Homo sapiens: one gene and its partners. The protein of the gene in region 1 interacts with the protein of each later gene in a pairwise test. Each region holds a gene or a part of one and is shown in the gene's direction. Other genes may lie near its edges. The genes, in order: RPAP1, GPN1 and GPN2.

The links.
Region 2: the proteins of RPAP1 (region 1) and GPN1 interact in a two-hybrid assay, tested with the Homo sapiens proteins (one study listed by BioGRID).
Region 3: the proteins of RPAP1 (region 1) and GPN2 interact in a two-hybrid assay, tested with the Homo sapiens proteins (one study listed by BioGRID).

Annotation. Positions count from the first base shown.
Region 1 is NC_000015.10:41,542,734-41,546,483, reverse strand, and holds the start of RPAP1 (RNA polymerase II-associated protein 1), read left to right. Parts: upstream 1-2,226; 5' UTR 2,227-2,265; exon of another isoform or gene 2,266-2,571; intron 2,572-3,750. UniProt on the Homo sapiens protein: Forms an interface between the RNA polymerase II enzyme and chaperone/scaffolding protein, suggesting that it is required to connect RNA polymerase II to regulators of protein complex formation.
Region 2 is NC_000002.12:27,631,937-27,635,686, forward strand, and holds part of GPN1 (GPN-loop GTPase 1), read left to right. Parts: intron 1-696; coding exon 697-734; intron 735-2,909; coding exon 2,910-2,988; intron 2,989-3,203; coding exon 3,204-3,298; intron 3,299-3,750. UniProt on the Homo sapiens protein: Small GTPase required for proper nuclear import of RNA polymerase II (RNAPII). May act at an RNAP assembly step prior to nuclear import.
Region 3 is NC_000001.11:26,883,581-26,887,330, reverse strand, and holds part of GPN2 (GPN-loop GTPase 2), read left to right. Parts: intron 1-1,197; coding exon 1,198-1,358; intron 1,359-3,040; coding exon 3,041-3,171; intron 3,172-3,750. UniProt on the Homo sapiens protein: Small GTPase required for proper localization of RNA polymerase II and III (RNAPII and RNAPIII). May act at an RNAP assembly step prior to nuclear import.

The DNA of each region.
Region 1 (3,750 bases):
TCACGCCTGTAATCCCAGCACTTTGGGAGGCCAAGGCGGGCAGATCACGAGGTCAGGAGATGGAGACCATCCTGGCTAACACGGTGAAACCCTGTCTCTACTAAAAATACAAAAAAGTAGCCCGGCATGGTGACAGGTGCCTGTAGTCCCAGCTACTCAGGAGGCTGAGGCAGGAGAATGGTGTGAACCCGGGAGGTGCAGGTTGCAGTGAGCTGAGACTGCGCCAGTGCACTCCAGCCTGGGCGACAGAGCGAGACTCTGTCACAAAAAAAAAGGAAACCTACTGAAACAGGCCAGGTGCAGTAGCTCATGCCTGTAATCCCAGCACTTTAGGAAGCTGACGTAGGTGGATCACCTGAGGTCAGGAGCTCGAGACCAGCCTGGCCAACATGGTGAAACCCCGTCTCTACTAAAAATACAAAAATTAGCTGGGCATGGTGGCGGGCGCCTGTAATCCCAGCTACTCGGGAGGCTGAGGCAGGAGAATCACTTGAACCCAGGAGGAGGTTGCAGTGTGCCGAGATCATGCTATTGCACTCCAGCCTGGGCGACAAGAGCAAGACTCCGTCTTAAAAAAAAAAAAAGAAAGAAAAAGAAAAACCTACTGAATCAGAAACTCAGAGGTTGAGGCCCAGCAATCTGTTTCGTTTTGTTTGAAACAGAGTCTGGCTCTGTGGCCCAATCTGGAGTGCAGTGGTTCCATCTTGGCTCACTGCAACCTCCGCTTCCCAGGTTCAAGTGATTCTCCTGGCTCAGCCTCTTGAGTAGCTGGGACTACAGATGGACACCACCATGCCCTGCTAATTTTTATATTTTTAGTAGAGATGGGGTTTCACCATGTTGGTCAGGCTGGTCTCGAACTCCTGACCTTAGGTGATCTGCCAGCTTCAGCCTCCCAAAGTACTGGGATTATAGGCATGTGCCACTGTGCCTGGCCCCAGCAATCTGGTTTAACAAGACTTCCAGTTGATTCTGGTGCCTGTTAAAGTTGGAAAGCCACTGGACTAACATTGGCTGCCCCATGATGTCCTTTGGTCTAGAAATGATTTACTTAAGGTCCTACTATGTGCATGGCAACACGTTGGGTGCTCAGTATTTAGATGCAAAGTACAAGGTCTGGTGCCCACAAGGAACTGACAGTCTATTCAAGGGAACAGGACATAAGCCTGTGAAAAGGTAACCGGTGACAGTTGGTAGTTGGCAGTGTGTTCTTAGCATACCACACAACTGGTGCAGGCGGTGAGATTCCAGGTGAATCCAAGGAAAGTTTGGTGAGTAGGCGTGGCTGGCAGAGGTTTTAGAGTTGACGCCAGCTAGGCCTTAAAGAGTTATCCTTTGGAGACAGGGGTGGCAGGGAAAAGAGGGAGGATTTCCAAGAAGGGAGAGTGGGATGAACAAAGGCAAGATTCTGGAGAAGATGATAACCTTGCTAGCAAGGAAGCTTTATTCCCTCTCTTCTCACCACCACTATTTCTGCAGTGCACACTGGCAGTGTTCTTTCCTTGGGCCTTTTTCATGGTTACCTTCTAGCTCTTCCATAAACACATTCGTCACGTTGGGGTGTGTGTGTGTGTCCACGTTTCTGTGTGCTGCCGTGGGCGTGGGTGCTGGGATGTGGGATGTGGTAACACTGGCTGGTGAGTGCAGAGGGACGTCTGAGGAACGCTGTGTCCCTGCCAGGGGTGTCGTAAGTGCAGAAGGGGCTGTGCCTGCTGTACATCAGAAGCATGTGTGGGCCAGGCGCGGTGGCACATCCTGTAATCACAGCACTTTGGGGGGCCGAGGCGGGCGGATTACCTAAGGTCGGGAGTTCGAGACCAGCTTGGCCAACATGGTGAAACCCCGTCTCTACTAAAAATACAAAAATTAGCCAGACGTGGTGGCGGGCACCTGTAATCCCAGCTACTCGGGAGGCTGAGGCACAAGAATCGCTTGAGCCCGGGAGGCGGAGGTTGCAGTGAGCCGAGATTGCGCCACAGCACTCCAGCCTGTGCGACAGAGCAAGACTCTGTCTCAAAAAAAAAAAAAAAAAAAAAGGATGTGTGTTCTGGGTGATGGTATAGAGCTTACGTGGGGGTAATAAACCGCCAGCCGCGCAGCACCGCGCTCACCAGTCCGCTGCACTGAACAAGCAAAGCCCAGAATGCTCCGAGATAAGACCGGGAGAGGCGGGGCTGGGCTGCGGGGCGGAAGCTGGAATCTGGCGGCGGCGGAAACGCGATCTCTGCGGGGCAAGATGGCGGCGCCCAGACAGGCCTGGAGCACGTAGGTGGCGGGGCTGGAGGGACGGATTTCAGGTGATCTGGGAGGAGGACCCAGGGTAGCGTGTCCAGTTTCTTTGCTGGAACCTGCCTGCGGGCCTTTGGTCTGTAAGGGAGCAACTGTGGCCTCCTCTGTGCATAGATCTCGGGCACGGCCCTTCAACGGGCGGCGAAAGCTGCGACTCGATGATTCCTCATTGTAGAGTTGGGTGGTCCAGGAGGCTTAACTGGAGCCCTTGACCTGAGCGGTAAGGGCAGTCACGCGTCCCGACTCGGGATTGGATCCTGGCTCTGGAGGATAGGCTGCAATGTAAGAGCCCCAGAGACTCCTCAGAGGCCAACATAAACCCAGAGGTCCATTGTTAGGACTACTTTTTTTTACGAGTTACTCTTTAGGCATTACTCTTTAGGATTACAGGCGTGAGCCACCGCGCCCGGCCAACCCATTCTTATTCTATTAATAACTGAAAATGTTATCACTTCTAGCACTGATTGGTTCTGGACAAATCTGCGCTGGATTTGTGGGGAAACACACTGGTGGCTTTACTTAGGACTAAAATAATTGTTACTGAGGTTTATTTATATAAGTAACAGGCACTGGGCTAGGCGTTTTGCGTGTATAGTCATTTAAATCCTCACACATTTCCTATTATATAGGACCTGTTACTCACATTTTACAGTTGTGGAAATGGGACTTAAGACAGCATAGAGGCCGCGCACGGTGGCTCACGCCTGTAATCCCAGCACTTTGGGAGGCCGAGGCGGGCGGGTCACCTGAGATCAGGAGTTCGAGACCAGTCTGGCCAACATGGTGAAACCCCGTCTGTACTAAAAAAATACAAAAAATTAGCCGGGCGTGGTGGCAGGCGCCTGTAATCCCAGCTACTCGGGAGCCTGAGGCAGGAGAATCACTTGAACCCAGGAGGCGGAGGTTGCAGTGTGCCGAGATCGTGCTATTGCACTCCAGCCTGGGCAACAAGAGGGAGAATCTGTCTCAAAAAAAAAAAAAAAAAAAAAAAAAGGACAGCATTGATAATTTGCCTAATTTCGCACATTTAGTGCATTTAGTAAGTAGCGGAACTGGTATTTGACTTCTGGCCTATTGATTCCAAAACTGGTGCCCATAACCCCCTGGCTCTCTTTGTGATGTAGGTATGGCGCACCCTATGAAGTGAGCTGGACTTTGCTTTTGGATCACATGAATCCATGGATAAGTAGGAATTGTTTCTGCTTATGTAGACTCTTATAGGAGTGAATTGTTACCATACTATGGATTCTCAGTTCATCTAGTTCAGCCTTCCTTAGGGCCTTTGGGTAGGCATTGGGGTAGGAGACTTTTTCCTTGTTTGTTGGTCAGACTGCCCAACAATTAGATATGGTTATCTGCCCTTTGGCTATATAAATAATAAGAATCATAACTGGCGTTTGTGTCCTTTCATGTATGAGACTCTGTTCTAATCTTCTTACATATATATAATTAATTCAGGAG
Region 2 (3,750 bases), on another chromosome or scaffold:
AAAATCTGTGACTCTTAAATTCCTTAGCTTGATCACATTGGTAAAGAAGAGCAGCAAACCTGAGCATAAATATAGAAAATAAGTAGGCATTTTGTCAGACAGAGAAGTAGACTATGAGAAGGTGATCAGTATGGTCAGACACTTCAAATTTAATATTTGTGACAGCTAATAAAAATCCAAAAGACCTGGGTTATTTTCTTGACCTGTTCTTTGCCTGTGGTATTACCCCGAAGCTGGGATGGGGGTATTTGGGAGTGGGATGGACTAGCAGTCATGGAATGGAAAGATGATGGGGCATTTTACTTGTGATAAATATTTGTCATTCTTTAGGTTTTCTTTGTCACCTACTTCCATAAGAGTGTTTTATAATCACTGGTTTTTATACTCTGATGTTAGGCCATGAGACAGGCTGTTAACATTTTGACAAGAGATAACAACTTGACATTGACAGATCAAAGTCTTCAGCTTCTCAGATCCTTGGATTGTGCCCCAAGATGGTATTGGAGTGCTGCTGATGTGGCTGTGTTGCTTTAGTTCAGCCTGTTTATTCTTTGTTGTCCTAAGATTGCAAATGTTCAGTAGGTGATTGAGGGATTCAGTAGGTGATAGTGCCTGTGAGGTATGCCACCCTGGAGAGGGCTCTGTGATTTTGTGTTGAAATCGGAATTTGTTGTCATTGACATCTTTTTCTTTTAGGTGATGAAATTTATTGAGAAGGCCCAGAACATGTCCAAGTAAGTGATGTCAGTAACACCCATTTATTACTCTGTAGCTGACATATTTCTAGGCTTCATGGAGGATCTGGGATACCATCAGCCTCTGAAAGAATATAGATTGAGATGAAACCATTAGGAGTGAAAAAAAAATTGGCAAATCATTAAGATGCTTTAGAATATAGAGCTAAATTTAATATCATTTCATCCTCAATTACTTTGATCCCCAATTTACATGGCTTCTTAGGAGCTCTTTTGAGACTTTGTCCCAATTCAGTTGTCCACCTGCCTTCTCTTGGGAAACCATGCTTGTTGTCATTAAAGTATCTGAAATACCTTTCTAATTCTTATTTAAATGAATATAGTCTACATGGTTCAGAGAAAATTTTTTAATTTACAGAGTGTCAGAATAGGAAATATTTGTTCTTATGGCCATTACCCAGTTAGCTGTTGTTCAAGGTTTACTTTTTTTAAAAAAGATAATTTATTGTTTTATAAAAATTCAAACCATGCATGATATTTATAAGATGAAACCATCACCCCGATTCCCACTAGAAGTAACATCATCATTCAGCGACTAGCATTCCACATTTCTATATACACAGATAGAAGGATGAATGGATAAAAGTGCTTTTACAAAAATGGGGTACTAGAGGTAGCTTTTGTTTTGTTTTGAGACAGGGTCTTGCTCTGTCGCCCAGGCTGGAGTACAGTGTAGTGATCTCAGCTCACTGTAACTTCCACCTCCCTGGCTCAGGTGATCCTCCCACCTCAGCCTCCCAAGTAGCTGGGACTACAGGTGTGAGCCACCACACCTGGCTAATTTTTGTATTTTTGTATTTTTGGGATGGAGTCTCGCTCTATTGCCTAGGCTGGAGTGCAGTGGTGTGATCTTGGCTCACTGCAATCTTTGCATCCCGGGTTCAAGCGATTCTCCTGCCTCAGCCTCCTGAGTAGCTGGGATTACAGGTGGCCTGCTACCATGCCTGACTAATTTTTGTATTTTTAGTAGAGATGGGGTTTCACCATGTTGGCCAGACTGGTCTCAAACTCCTAACCTCAAGTGATCTGCCCGGCTTAACCTCCCAAAGTGCTGGAACTATAGGTGTGAGCCACTGAGCCTGGCCTGGAGGTATTTTTTTTTTTTTAATGACAGCTTTATTAAGATATAATTCATATACCATAAAGTTCACTCGTTTAAAGTGTATGGTTGTTTTAGTCTGTCCACAGAGTCGTGTGTTGATAATTACTATCTTCAGAATATTTTTGTCATCCTGAAAAGAAACCCCATACTCATTACCAATCACTCCTTATTTTCTGTTCCCTTTAGCCCCTAGTGACTACCCCATTTTCCATTCCCATTGGCAATATGATTTCTCCACAACCAGTTCCTCCATAACCTTGCCAACTTTTGTTATTCTTCTTGTTTTTGATTATAGCCATTCTAGTGGATATAGAGTGGTATCTCATTGTGGTTTTTACTTTTATTTTCTTAATAACTAATGATATTGAACATCTTTTTAATGTACTTATTGGCCATTGGTATGTATATATTTAGAGAAATGTCTATTAGAATTCTTTGCCAATTAAAAAAATTCTGATATAATTCATAATTATATCAAATTAATTCACAAAAAAGTTGATATAGTTCATAAAAACAGCTTTATTGAGATAATTCACATACCATACAATTCACCCATTTAAGGTATACAATTCAGTGGCTTTTAGTATATTCACAGAATTGTACAACTATCACCACAGTCAATTTTAGAATATTTTCATCATCTCAAGAAGTAACCTGATATTCTTCAGCTAGCACTTTCCCATTCCTCCCATTCTTCTTCCTCTGTTCCACACTCACCCCCGCCCTAAGCAACCAGATGTTTCCCAAGAGATTTACATTCTGGTTTTGTGTCTTTCATTTTAAATGCATTGTGTTTCTATAAAAGTTTCCCCTGTGATCATTTGCAGCAACTCATGGTCTGCTGTTCCTGCCCATTGGCGTGAATATTGGTCATTGAACAAAGTCTAGGGGATCATCATGTGCAGTTTAGGGCCAGTAGGAGGAAGTTAGATTTGGCAGTGTGCAGAGGTTACTCCAGTCTTGGATAACCAGATGTTTATTGTCTTATATGATGGAATATCCTTCAGCATAACACAAATGTAACACTTCTTTAATGATCTTTCTTGACATAGATATGTGTTGATTGACACACCTGGACAGATTGAGGTATTCACCTGGTCAGCTTCTGGGACAATTATCACTGAAGCCCTTGTGAGTATTCTAGGACTTGCTACTGAGAGTAGCTAGAGGGGCTAGACTGGATGAGCATTTATTTTTAATTGCCTTGGACTTTATATGGGAGGAAGTTGTAGAAGCTCTGCACACCCTGCCTAAAGTGGTTTTCCCTTGTTAAGGATGGTGGAAAAAGAGTTTGAGGACAGATCGTGAGCCCTCTGACCAAGGCTTTGATTTTTTTGTGGCTTTAGGCATCCTCATTTCCAACAGTTGTCATCTATGTAATGGACACATCGAGAAGTACCAACCCAGTGACCTTCATGTCCAACATGCTCTATGCCTGCAGGTAATTGATTGTTGGTGGGGAAAGTGTTCCATCAAGGTATAAGGCCTTTTTCTCTTCTTCTTCCTCTTTTTTTTTTTTTTTTGAATCTGGTTGCTTACCCCTGGATTTGTGCTCATTCAGATTTGCTGTTCAGTTGAGTGGCTGTGAGCTGGGGAAGGTCAGAGGAGAAAAGAGGCACATGTGCTGTTGGCATTCTCTCTCAATACCCTCTGATCTTCCTCCCTTGTTGTTACAAAAAGGTGATGTATGAATATGAACTGTCTGATAGTTGTTCCCAGTTGGATAAAATCCAAGTTTAAAGATAAAGTCCTCTGGGCTGGGTCTGTCATCCCTACACTTGGGAGGCCAAGGTGGGAGGATCGTTTGAGCTTGGGAGTTTGAAACCAGGCTGGGGAACATAGCAAGACTCTGTCTCTACAAAAAATGTTTTAAAATTAGCCAGCGTGGTGGCA
Region 3 (3,750 bases), on another chromosome or scaffold:
TTTCTGGGCAGAAACAGGCCACTAGGGGGAAGTCCAACTTACTTCTTTTAGTGAGAAATGATTTATAAAACTGAATCAGGGACCTCAGCATCATCTAGTCCTTATTTTACATTAAGAAATAACTGGCTCAGAAAAGGAAAGTGATTTACCCAGGAGGCTACCCTGCTAGAATGTAGCATTTATTCAGTTTAACCATTTACAGAGTCTTTGCAGTGTATGTGCCAGGTCCTGAGGGTATGACCTGACTATGAGCTCTGTGAGGTGAGGACGACCATGCACAGTTCTTGGTACATACTTGTTATCATTATTTGCAACTTTTTTTTTTTTTTTTTTTTTTGAGACAGAGTTTCGCTCTTGTTGCCCAAGCTGGAGTGCAATGGTGTAATCTCGGCTCACTGCATCCTCCGCCTCCTGGATTCAAGCGATTCTCCTGCCTCAGCCTCCCGTGTAGCTGGGATTACAGGCATGTGCCACCACGTCCGGCTAATTTTGTATTTTTTTTTCTTTTTTTTTGAGACGGAGTCTTGCTGTGTCGCCCAGGCTGGAGTGCAGTGGCGCGATCTCGGCTCACTGCAAGCTCCCCCTCCTGGGTTCACGCCATTCTCCTGCCTCAGCCTCCTGAGTAGCTGGGACTACAGGCACCCGCCACCACGCCCAGCTAATTTTTTGTATTTTTAGTAGAAACAGGGTTTCATCGTGTTAGCCAGGATGGTCTCGATCTCCTGACCTTGTGATCCGTCCATCTCCCAAAGTGCTGGGATTACAGGCTTGAGCCACCGCACCTGGCCTAATTTTGTATTTTTAGGAGAAATGGAGTTTCACCATGTTGGCTGGTCTTGAACTCCTGACCTCAGGTAATCACCCACCTCGGCTTCCCAAAGTGCTGGGATTACAGGCATGAGCCACCGTGCCCAGCCTGTTTGCAGTTATTGATCAAGCACTTCTCTGTACCAGACACTGGGGTTTATAGCATTTAATCTTCATAACAGTCCTATGAAGTAGATACCTGCCTATATAGCTAGTAAATAGCAGAGCCAGCAGGTAAAACCAAATGCTTTTTTTCTTAGTAACTTCATTTTACTGTGTCAAGAAATATTTGAGTGCATGAGTGCACAAAGGAAAAAAGGAAAAAGGAACCTCGTCCTCAGGTCTTTAGCCTGATACTGGTTGCTCCTGAACACTGGTTTCTCTCTTTAGCCTTCAACCTGGACTACTACACAGAGGTTCTGGACCTCTCCTACCTGCTTGACCACCTGGCTTCTGACCCTTTCTTCCGCCACTACCGCCAGCTCAATGAGAAGCTAGTGCAGCTCATCGAAGACTATAGCCTTGTCTCCTTTATCCCTCTCAACATCCAGGTACTAGGGGCTAAGACGGGACTCTTGACAGTGCATGGGATTCACCAAGCCAAAAGCACAGGAAGCTTTGAGGGCTTAAAGAATGGTCTTTGCCGGCTGGGCGCGGTTGCTCAAGCCTCTAATCCTAGCACTTTGGGAGGCCGAGGTGGGCAGATCATGAGGTCAGGAGATCGAGACCATCCTGGCTAACCCAGTGAAACCCCGTCTCTACTAAAAATACAAAAAATTAGCTGGGCGTGGTAGCAGGTGCCTGTAGTCCCAGCTACTCAGGAGGCTGAGGCAGGAGAATGGCGTGAACCCGTGAGGCAGAGCTTGCAGTGAGCCGAGACCACGCCATTGCTCTCCAGCCTGGGCGACAGAGTGAGACTCCATCTCAAAAAAAAAAAAAAAAAAAGAGTGGTCTTTGCCCTGGGTTGAGTATCACTGAGAGTAACCTTAGTTTCAGGACCAGGGGCTGCTGTAGGGGCAGAATTCCAGTAAAGAGAGTGGACCAAACTTTTGCCCTGTCTATTTTGTGTTGCTGGATCCTCTCTTCACATGTTCTGTCCTCTGTGAAAATGGGTGAGTTCAGAAAGTCATCAGCAAGAAAGTTCACCAGGACCAGGGACAAGTCTCTTAAGCCCTTTCAACTGGGCAACTGTCTGTTGACTTTGCAAAGTGGTACCCAACCCCTGTGCCTCTCACCTTTACCCTGCAGAGATAACCTGGGAGACGCAGGTGCATGTTAGATTCCTTTCTGCAGTGGGTGGACTTGAGCTAACTTGTCTCCTCCCTTCTAATGCCACACTCTTCTGATATGAGGAGATGAACTCTATAATATCAATCACAACAATTACCTCTTATTTATGGCTTTCTGTGCTGGGCACTGTGCTAAGGACTACACATACATAATTTTGCTTTGTCCTTCCCACCATGTGATATATGGACTGTTCTTATCACTGTATGTGGATGAGGAAACAGTTATAGTTTTTTTTTGTTTTGTTTTGTTTTTTGTGACGGAGTCTCACTCTGTCACCCAGGCTGGAGTGCAGTGCGTTATCTTGGCTCACTGCAACCTCTGCCTCCTGGGTTCAACCGATTCTCCTGCCTCAGCTTCCCAAGTAACTGGGATTACAGGCATCCATCACCATGCCCAACTAATTTTTGTATTTTCAGTAGAGACAGGGTTTCACCATGTTGGCCAGGCTGCTCTTGAACTCCTGACCTTAAGTGATCTACCTGCCTTGGCCTCCCAAAGTGCTGGGCTTTACAGGTGTGAACCACCGTGCCTGGCCCAGTTATAGATTTAAAACATGCATATTCATTGGATGTCTACTTAAGAGAAGTACTGTGCCAGGCACTGGGAATACTGCGACAGATGACCTGGCCCTAAGGGGTGTTTAGTTGAGTAGGGGAGGCAGGTGAGTTAATAGGCGTTTATTACATGGCAGGGATACCATGTACAATAGGTGTAAACCCAGGGGACTGTGGATATGCATAGGGGAGCTTATCTGTTCTAATCTGAGTGAGTTGGTGGTCAGGAAACATGAGATTTATCCAGCCTTTGGGGACATGTAGAACTACTCCAGGCCAAGAAAGCTACAGGTACAGAGGCAAGATGGAGGAAGGTGTATTTAGAGATTGCAAGCAGTTTTACATACTTCTGTTTCACTCACAGAACTGTTTCTCTCCTCCCTGCTCAGGACAAGGAGAGCATCCAGCGAGTCCTGCAGGCTGTGGATAAAGCCAATGGATACTGTTTCAGAGCCCAAGAGCAGCGAAGCTTGGAAGCCATGATGTCTGCCGCAATGGGAGCCGACTTCCATTTCTCTTCGTATCCTTGCCAGCTTCCTGGCCATAGCAGAGAGGGTGAGACATGGGACTCAAGAATGGCCACAGGAGGTGCAGTCATCAACCTTGTGGATGACCAATTTCTTTTTTTTTTTTTTTTTTTGAGATGGAGTCTTGCTCTGTCGCCCAGGCTGGAGTGCAGTGGCACGATCTCAGCTCACTGCAAGCTCTGCCTCCCGGGTTCACGCCACTCTCCTGCCCCAGCCTCCTGAGTAGCTGGGACTACAGCCACCCACCACCACGCCCAGCTAATTTTTTGTATTTTTAGTAGAGACGGGGTTTCACTGTGTTGGCCAGGATGGTCTTGATCTCCTGACCTTGTGATCCACCCAATTTCTTTTTTCTTTTTTTTTTTTGAAAGGGAGTTTCGCTCTTGTTGCCCAGGCTGGATCGCACAATGGCGCAATCTTGGCTCTGTGTAACCTCTGCCTCCCATATTCAAGCAATTCTCCTGCCTCAGCCTCCCAAGTAGCTGGTATTAGTGTGCGCCACTGTGCCCAGTTAGTTTTTATATTTTTAGTAGAGACGGGGTTTCACCATGTTGGCCAGGCTGGTCTGGAAC